2 separate regions of the Homo sapiens genome follow, and region 2 is linked to region 1. The links come from fine-mapping of genetic effects on gene expression. A gene starts in region 1. The other region holds a variant in brackets. All regions are shown on one strand. Distances are from middle to middle. Region 1 holds the start of CLEC11A (C-type lectin domain containing 11A). Region 2 has its middle 17 kb from the start of GPR32.

Region 1 (2,900 bases):
ATAAACAAACAAGATCATGCCAGTCTTGATTATACCAAAAAGATGAAATGGGGCATTTTAATAAAGTAACTTGCGGAATAGATAAGGTGGTTGGGGAAGACCTCCTGGAGCTGAGACCTCGATGATGAGAAGGAGCTGGGGAAAGAGGCTTCTAGAAGGAGGAAAGGGCTAGTGCAAATGCTCTGAGGTTGTAATCAGCTTAGTATTTGGGGATGAGCCAAGAGGCCAGGGAAGGTGGAGGCTGGGGGTGGGTGAAGGGAATGGGGGTGATGAGGCTGCAGAGGTGCAAAGGGTTCTTCCTTCCCAGCCCCCAGCATGGTAGGCTGCGCTGAGGACTGAGGCCCGGGCTTGGCTTCCCTCCTGCTTATGATGGGAAGGTGGGGGAGCAGGGGAGTGGGGAGTGATGTGATCTGATTTATGGTTTGGAAGGATTGCTTTGGCTGCGGCAAGCAGCCGGGATTGGAGGGGCTCAGGAGGAAGGAGGGGGAGGGCGAGACTGCAGTGGTCCAGGCTGAAATGAGGTGGCTTGCTGAATGCTCAGAGCTCCTTGAGCACACAACCTAGCGTCTGTCGATTTCACCTCCTGGAGAAACCTTCCCTGACTGCTCCGCCAGACTCCTCACCCTCTCCCATCTCCAGCCCCCTCATCCCCGGAGCTATCTGGCTGCTGGTCTGCAAGCAGCTGGAGTCCCCAGCATCACCCAGCCCACAGCCTGGCCTGCAGGAGGCTTCTAGTAAAGTGGCCAATTAATCCCCGAGCCCCGTCTTCCAGGGTCATGCACACAGTCACACGCGTGCTCTTCACATGTGTCACCCTGCCCCCACACACACTCACTTGGATCTCCAGACAAGGGCTTGGAGGGTAGGATGGGCAATCTAGGGGGCAGGAGGGGCCCTGGAGTCTCCTCCATTGAGTGTGCAGGCGATGGTGGCCACAGGGTAATAACAACCTCAGCGAGACCCTGAGGTCTGCCCCTCCTTAGGAATGGCCAGGCAGGGAAGAAGGGAGCAGTGCTCGGTCCCAGCATCCCACCACTGCCGAGATGGTTCTGAGCGGGTTCCTGGGCTGAGGCCGGGGCCTGTGTTTTCCAAGATTCCTTGGAGAGCCAGCTCCATCCTCTTCCTGATTATCTGATCTTTGGGCTACAGCAGAAGGAAAGAGCAGGGCGGAAGCGAGCTCTGGAAAGTGGAAAGAGGAGGGTGTGCGAGGAGACCCAAGGCGGGATCTAGGCTTTGGAACGTTGGAGGTTTCCGGCCACAGAGGCAGGGCCTCCGGGGAGCCAAGAGGGGCGGGGAGAGACACACACAGAGAAGCAGAGGAGACCAACGGACCGGACAGAGACGAGGAGAGGAACAGGAAGAGAGAAGCTGGGAGAATCGGGAACCTGGGGGCTAGTGACCTGCACACAGGGCAGGGGCACTCGGCAGTTCCCAGAGGCCACCCCTCCCACCCCAGACATCCAGACATCTGGAACTTTGGGTGCCAAGAGTCCAGCTTAATGCAGGCAGCCTGGCTTTTGGGGGCTTTGGTGGTCCCCCAGCTCTTGGGCTTTGGCCATGGGGCTCGGGGAGCAGAGAGGGAGTGGGAGGGAGGCTGGGGAGGTGCCCAGGAGGAGGAGCGGGAGAGGGAGGCCCTGATGCTGAAGGTGAGCTCTGGAGTGTCAGGGAGCTATGGGTGGTGAACTGTGGGTCTGGGAGGGGGTATTGCAAGGTTAGGGAAATGGACAATGAGGAGCGATTGGGATAGTCTCAGAGGAGTGGGAGGGTGATGGGCTCAGAGACAGGACTCAGGCAGCAGAGAATGAGTTATGAGTTGGAAAGGGGTGAATGGGGCATCTTGGTGGCAGGCTGGGGCTCACCACCCCTCCCCTGCCCCAGCATCTGCAGGAAGCCCTAGGACTGCCTGCTGGGAGGGGGGATGAGAATCCTGCCGGAACTGTTGAGGGAAAAGAGGACTGGGAGATGGAGGAGGACCAGGGGGAGGAAGAGGAGGAGGAAGCAACGCCAACCCCATCCTCCGGCCCCAGCCCCTCTCCCACCCCTGAGGACATCGTCACTTACATCCGTGAGTAACCAGAAGCCCTCACCCCCAAACTCCTAGGCCGCCGCGGTCACTTTCGCAAAAATGAAGGGTCGGTTCACTGCCAAGTGGCCTTTCAGTTGTCCATTGCCCAGCCCAGAGCCCCCACACCCCTAGGAGCCCCAGGTCCACGGCCATGCCTCCTAAAGGCCTGGGCCACTCGACCCTACCTTCCAGGAGTCCGGGGTGCCCCCCCCACCGCCACCCCGCCCTCAGGAGCCCTAGATCCCAGTTCTCCAGGTCCTCAGGCCCCCCGCTGCATCTCCAGGCTCCCCCTCCAGCATGATCCCTGTCTGTCCGCAGTGGGCCGCCTGGCCGGCCTGGACGCAGGCCTGCACCAGCTGCACGTCCGTCTGCACGCGTTGGACACCCGCGTGGTCGAGCTGACCCAGGGGCTGCGGCAGCTGCGGAACGCGGCAGGCGACACCCGCGATGCCGTGCAAGCCCTGCAGGAGGCGCAGGGTCGCGCCGAGCGCGAGCACGGCCGCTTGGAGGGTGAGTCCGCGGCGCGCGGGGTGGAAAAAAATGAGACTATCTGGGCCAGGAATGGGACTGGTTGAGAAGGTGACCCTAGGTGTCCGGGGCGGGAGAGTTCGGGAGAGCTGCTGTGTGCTAGCGGACGGGGTTAGAGAGCTGGGAGGCTGAATGCAGGGAGCGGGTGGGCACTCCAGACCCGCGCGGACCCGACTGGGGCAGCACCACGCCCCCTACAGTCCAGCTCCCACCGCCTGGCCCCGCCCCTGGCGGACCAGACTCTCCACCTCCTGGCTCCCGCGGTTCTGACCACGCCTCCTCCCAGCCCTCCCCATGAGTTCCTGGC
Region 2 (2,900 bases), 30 kb after region 1:
AGATCATCTGGCACAGGTGTGTAGCAGACTCTCCCACCTAGGTTTGTGTAAGCACACTCTATGATATCTATACAATGATGAAATCACCTAAGGATACATCTCTCAGAATTTATTCCTGATGTTAATCGAAGCAGGACTATAGCAGTATTAATAACGAGACCTAACAATGCTTGAGCACCTACTATGTGCCAAGAAGTTTTTTTTGTTTTGTTCTGTTTTTGTTTTTGATGAATCTCACTCTGTTGCCCAGGCTGGAGTGCAGTAGCTCAATCTCGACCGGCTGCAACCTCCACCTCTGAGGTTCAAGCAATTCGCCTGCCTCAGCCTCCGAAGTAGCTGGGATTACAGGCACCCACCCTGATGTCTGGCTAATTTTTGTATTTTTAGTAGAGACAGGGTTTCGCCATGTTGGCCAGGCTGGTCTTGAACTCCTTGTCTCAGGTAATCCACCCGCCTTGGCCTCCCAAAGTGCTGGGATCACAGGCGTGAGCCACCGAGCCCGGCCGCAAGAAGTTTTAAGTGTTTTGTATCTCTTAACAAATTTCATTAGCACAAAGAGGGCAGAGGAGAATTGGAATGGCCTTGCGGAAAGACCTCCCTGGCACCCGCCTCCTCCTTATGCCCCAAGCCTGCAGCCCCTGGGGCCTATTATTAGGGCCCACATCTGGTGACATTTCCCGGACTGATAGCGATCTCTGAAGCTCTTGCTCAAGGTTCTTTCCTGGACGTTTATCTGCTCCAAAACTCACAGCTAGCTTCCTGCCATCAGCCCCCTACCTTTAACGTGGGCTCAAGGCTGGCGGCCACCTGGGACTGACGACAGAGACAGAAAGAGCCCCCTCACCTTGCCTCACCCTCAGACACAGCACAAGGTGACGGGACCGGGATTCGTTGCGGGGTGTGTCTCAGGGAGCCAGGAGGTAGGAGCTTGGGGATTAGGAGAGTTGAAGGGCACTCTCCAGGGTATACAAAAAGGAGGTAGTGGGCTGGGCACAGTGGCTCACCCCTGTAATCCTAGCACTTAGGGAGGCCGAGGCAGGTGGATCACCTGAGGTCAAGAGTTGGAGACCACCCTGGCCAACATAGTGAATCCCCATCTCTACTAAAAATACAAAAACCAGCCGGGTGTGGTGGCAGCTGCCTGTAATCCCAGCTACTTAGGAGGCTGAGGCAGGAGAATTGCTTGAACCCAGGAGACAGAGGTTGCAGTGAGCTGAGATCGTGCCATTGCACTCCGGCCTAGGCAATAGAGTGAGACTCCATCTCAAAAGAAAAAAAAAAAAAGAGGTGGCAAAAAGGGGCTGAAAGTTCTGGGCCACCTCCTCTGGGTGAGGAATGTTCTCATGCCATATGCGTGAACTGTGCCTGGTCAGAGGTATTTGACTGTCTTCATCACTGCGGTACCCCCAGCGCTTAGGATAGTGTCTGG[T/C]GTACAATTTGGGCTCAATGCATAATTTTACACTAAATGAATGAATCCATCCTCAGATGACAAAGGAGAGATTGCCCTCCTTAATGGATCACTCATCGATTATTTACCAAGTGCCTGCTGTGTTCCAGGGGCCAGGAGCAAGCCACACACCAGCCTCGCCTCTAGGGAACTCAGAGATGAATAATGCAGATGGGTGATCACCAAATGATCCAACAAACGCGGTCTAATTGCTGCTGCCTGTAACCAGCTCTTTTTTTGTGGGGGCTCGGGGGGAACGGGGGGACAACAGAGTCTTGCTCTATCACCCAGGCTGGAGTGCAGTGGCATGATCACAGTTCTCTCCAAACTCCGCCTCCCGGGTTCAAGCGATTCTCCTGCCTCAGCCTCCCAAGTAGCTGAGATTACAGGCATGCACCACCACACCCAGCTAATTTTTGTATCTTTAGTAGAGATGGGGGTCTCACCATGTTGGCCAGGCTGGTCTCAAACTCCTGACCTCATGCGATCCTCCCACCTTAGCTTCCCAAAGTACTGGTATTACAGGTGTGAGCCACCGTTCCCAGCCTGTAATCATCTCTTCATGGGAGAGAAGCTCCTATAGGAGGGTCTGATTGAAAAGGGCAGGAAAAACTTTGGGGAGAAAGTGAAATTTGCACTGAGATCGCAGGAATGAGTTAAAAAAAAAAAAAAGCAGAGGAAAGAAAAGGTGTTCCAGGCAGAGGGGCAGCACATGCAAAGGCCCTGGGGTGGGAGGGAGATGAGAATCTTGGCAATGGACACAAAGGTAGGGAAGCCGGGATTTGGTGCACAAAGAGGGGGAAGGTGCAAGAGAAGTCTGGAGAGGCTGGCAGGTGCCCCAGCTCTCACCAGTGGTGCCGGGGAGACTCATATTTATCCCACAAGCAATGAAGAGCCACAGTGTAATTTTCCAGTTTGAACTGTATTTTTTTTTTTTTTGAGACAGGGTCTCACTCTGTTGCCCAGGCTGGAGTGCAGTGGCACAGTCATGGTTCACTGCAGCCTCAATCTCCTGAGCTCAAGTGATCCTCGTGCCTCAGCCTCTCGGGTAGCTGGAATTACAATGCAAGCCACACTGTTTGGCCAATTTATTTTTATTTTGTAGAGACAGGGTTTCGCCTTGCCACCTAGACTGGTCCTGAAGCCCTGGCCTCAAGTGATTCTCCTGCCTGGGTCTCCCACAGCGCTGGGGTTACAAGGTTTGGGCTTTCAAAGGATCACTCTAGCTGTAGGGTGGTGAGTGGCTGGTAGGAGATGAATATAAAGCTGAGGGCCAGGCACAGTGGCGCACACCTGTACTCCCAGCACTTTGGGAGGCCGAGGTGCATGAATCACCTGAGGTCAGGAGTTCAAGACCAGCCTGGTCAATATGGTGAAACCCCGTCTCTACTAAAAATATAAAAATTAGCTGGGCATGTCCCCAGGGTGTGTGCCTATAGTCCCAACTACTCTA

What was found. PIP is the estimated chance that this variant, and not a neighbour inherited with it, causes the effect.
Region 2: its variant is fine-mapped to the expression of CLEC11A in whole blood (TOPMed, PIP above 0.99).

The regions. Positions count from the first base shown.
Region 1 is chr19:50,722,027-50,724,926 of GRCh38, forward strand. It overlaps CLEC11A (C-type lectin domain containing 11A), which reads left to right and starts at 1,338. Exons shown (of 4, transcript NM_002975.3): 1 at 1,338-1,646; 2 at 1,879-2,065; 3 at 2,384-2,575. The coding sequence starts at 1,500. RefSeq lists silencers at 2,687-2,806, 2,847-2,900.
Region 2 is chr19:50,751,900-50,754,799 of GRCh38, forward strand. No RefSeq gene overlaps it. Among named protein-coding and RNA genes, the nearest start is that of GPR32, 17 kb to the right of the region's middle. The variant T/C (reference allele first, on the strand shown) is at 1,430.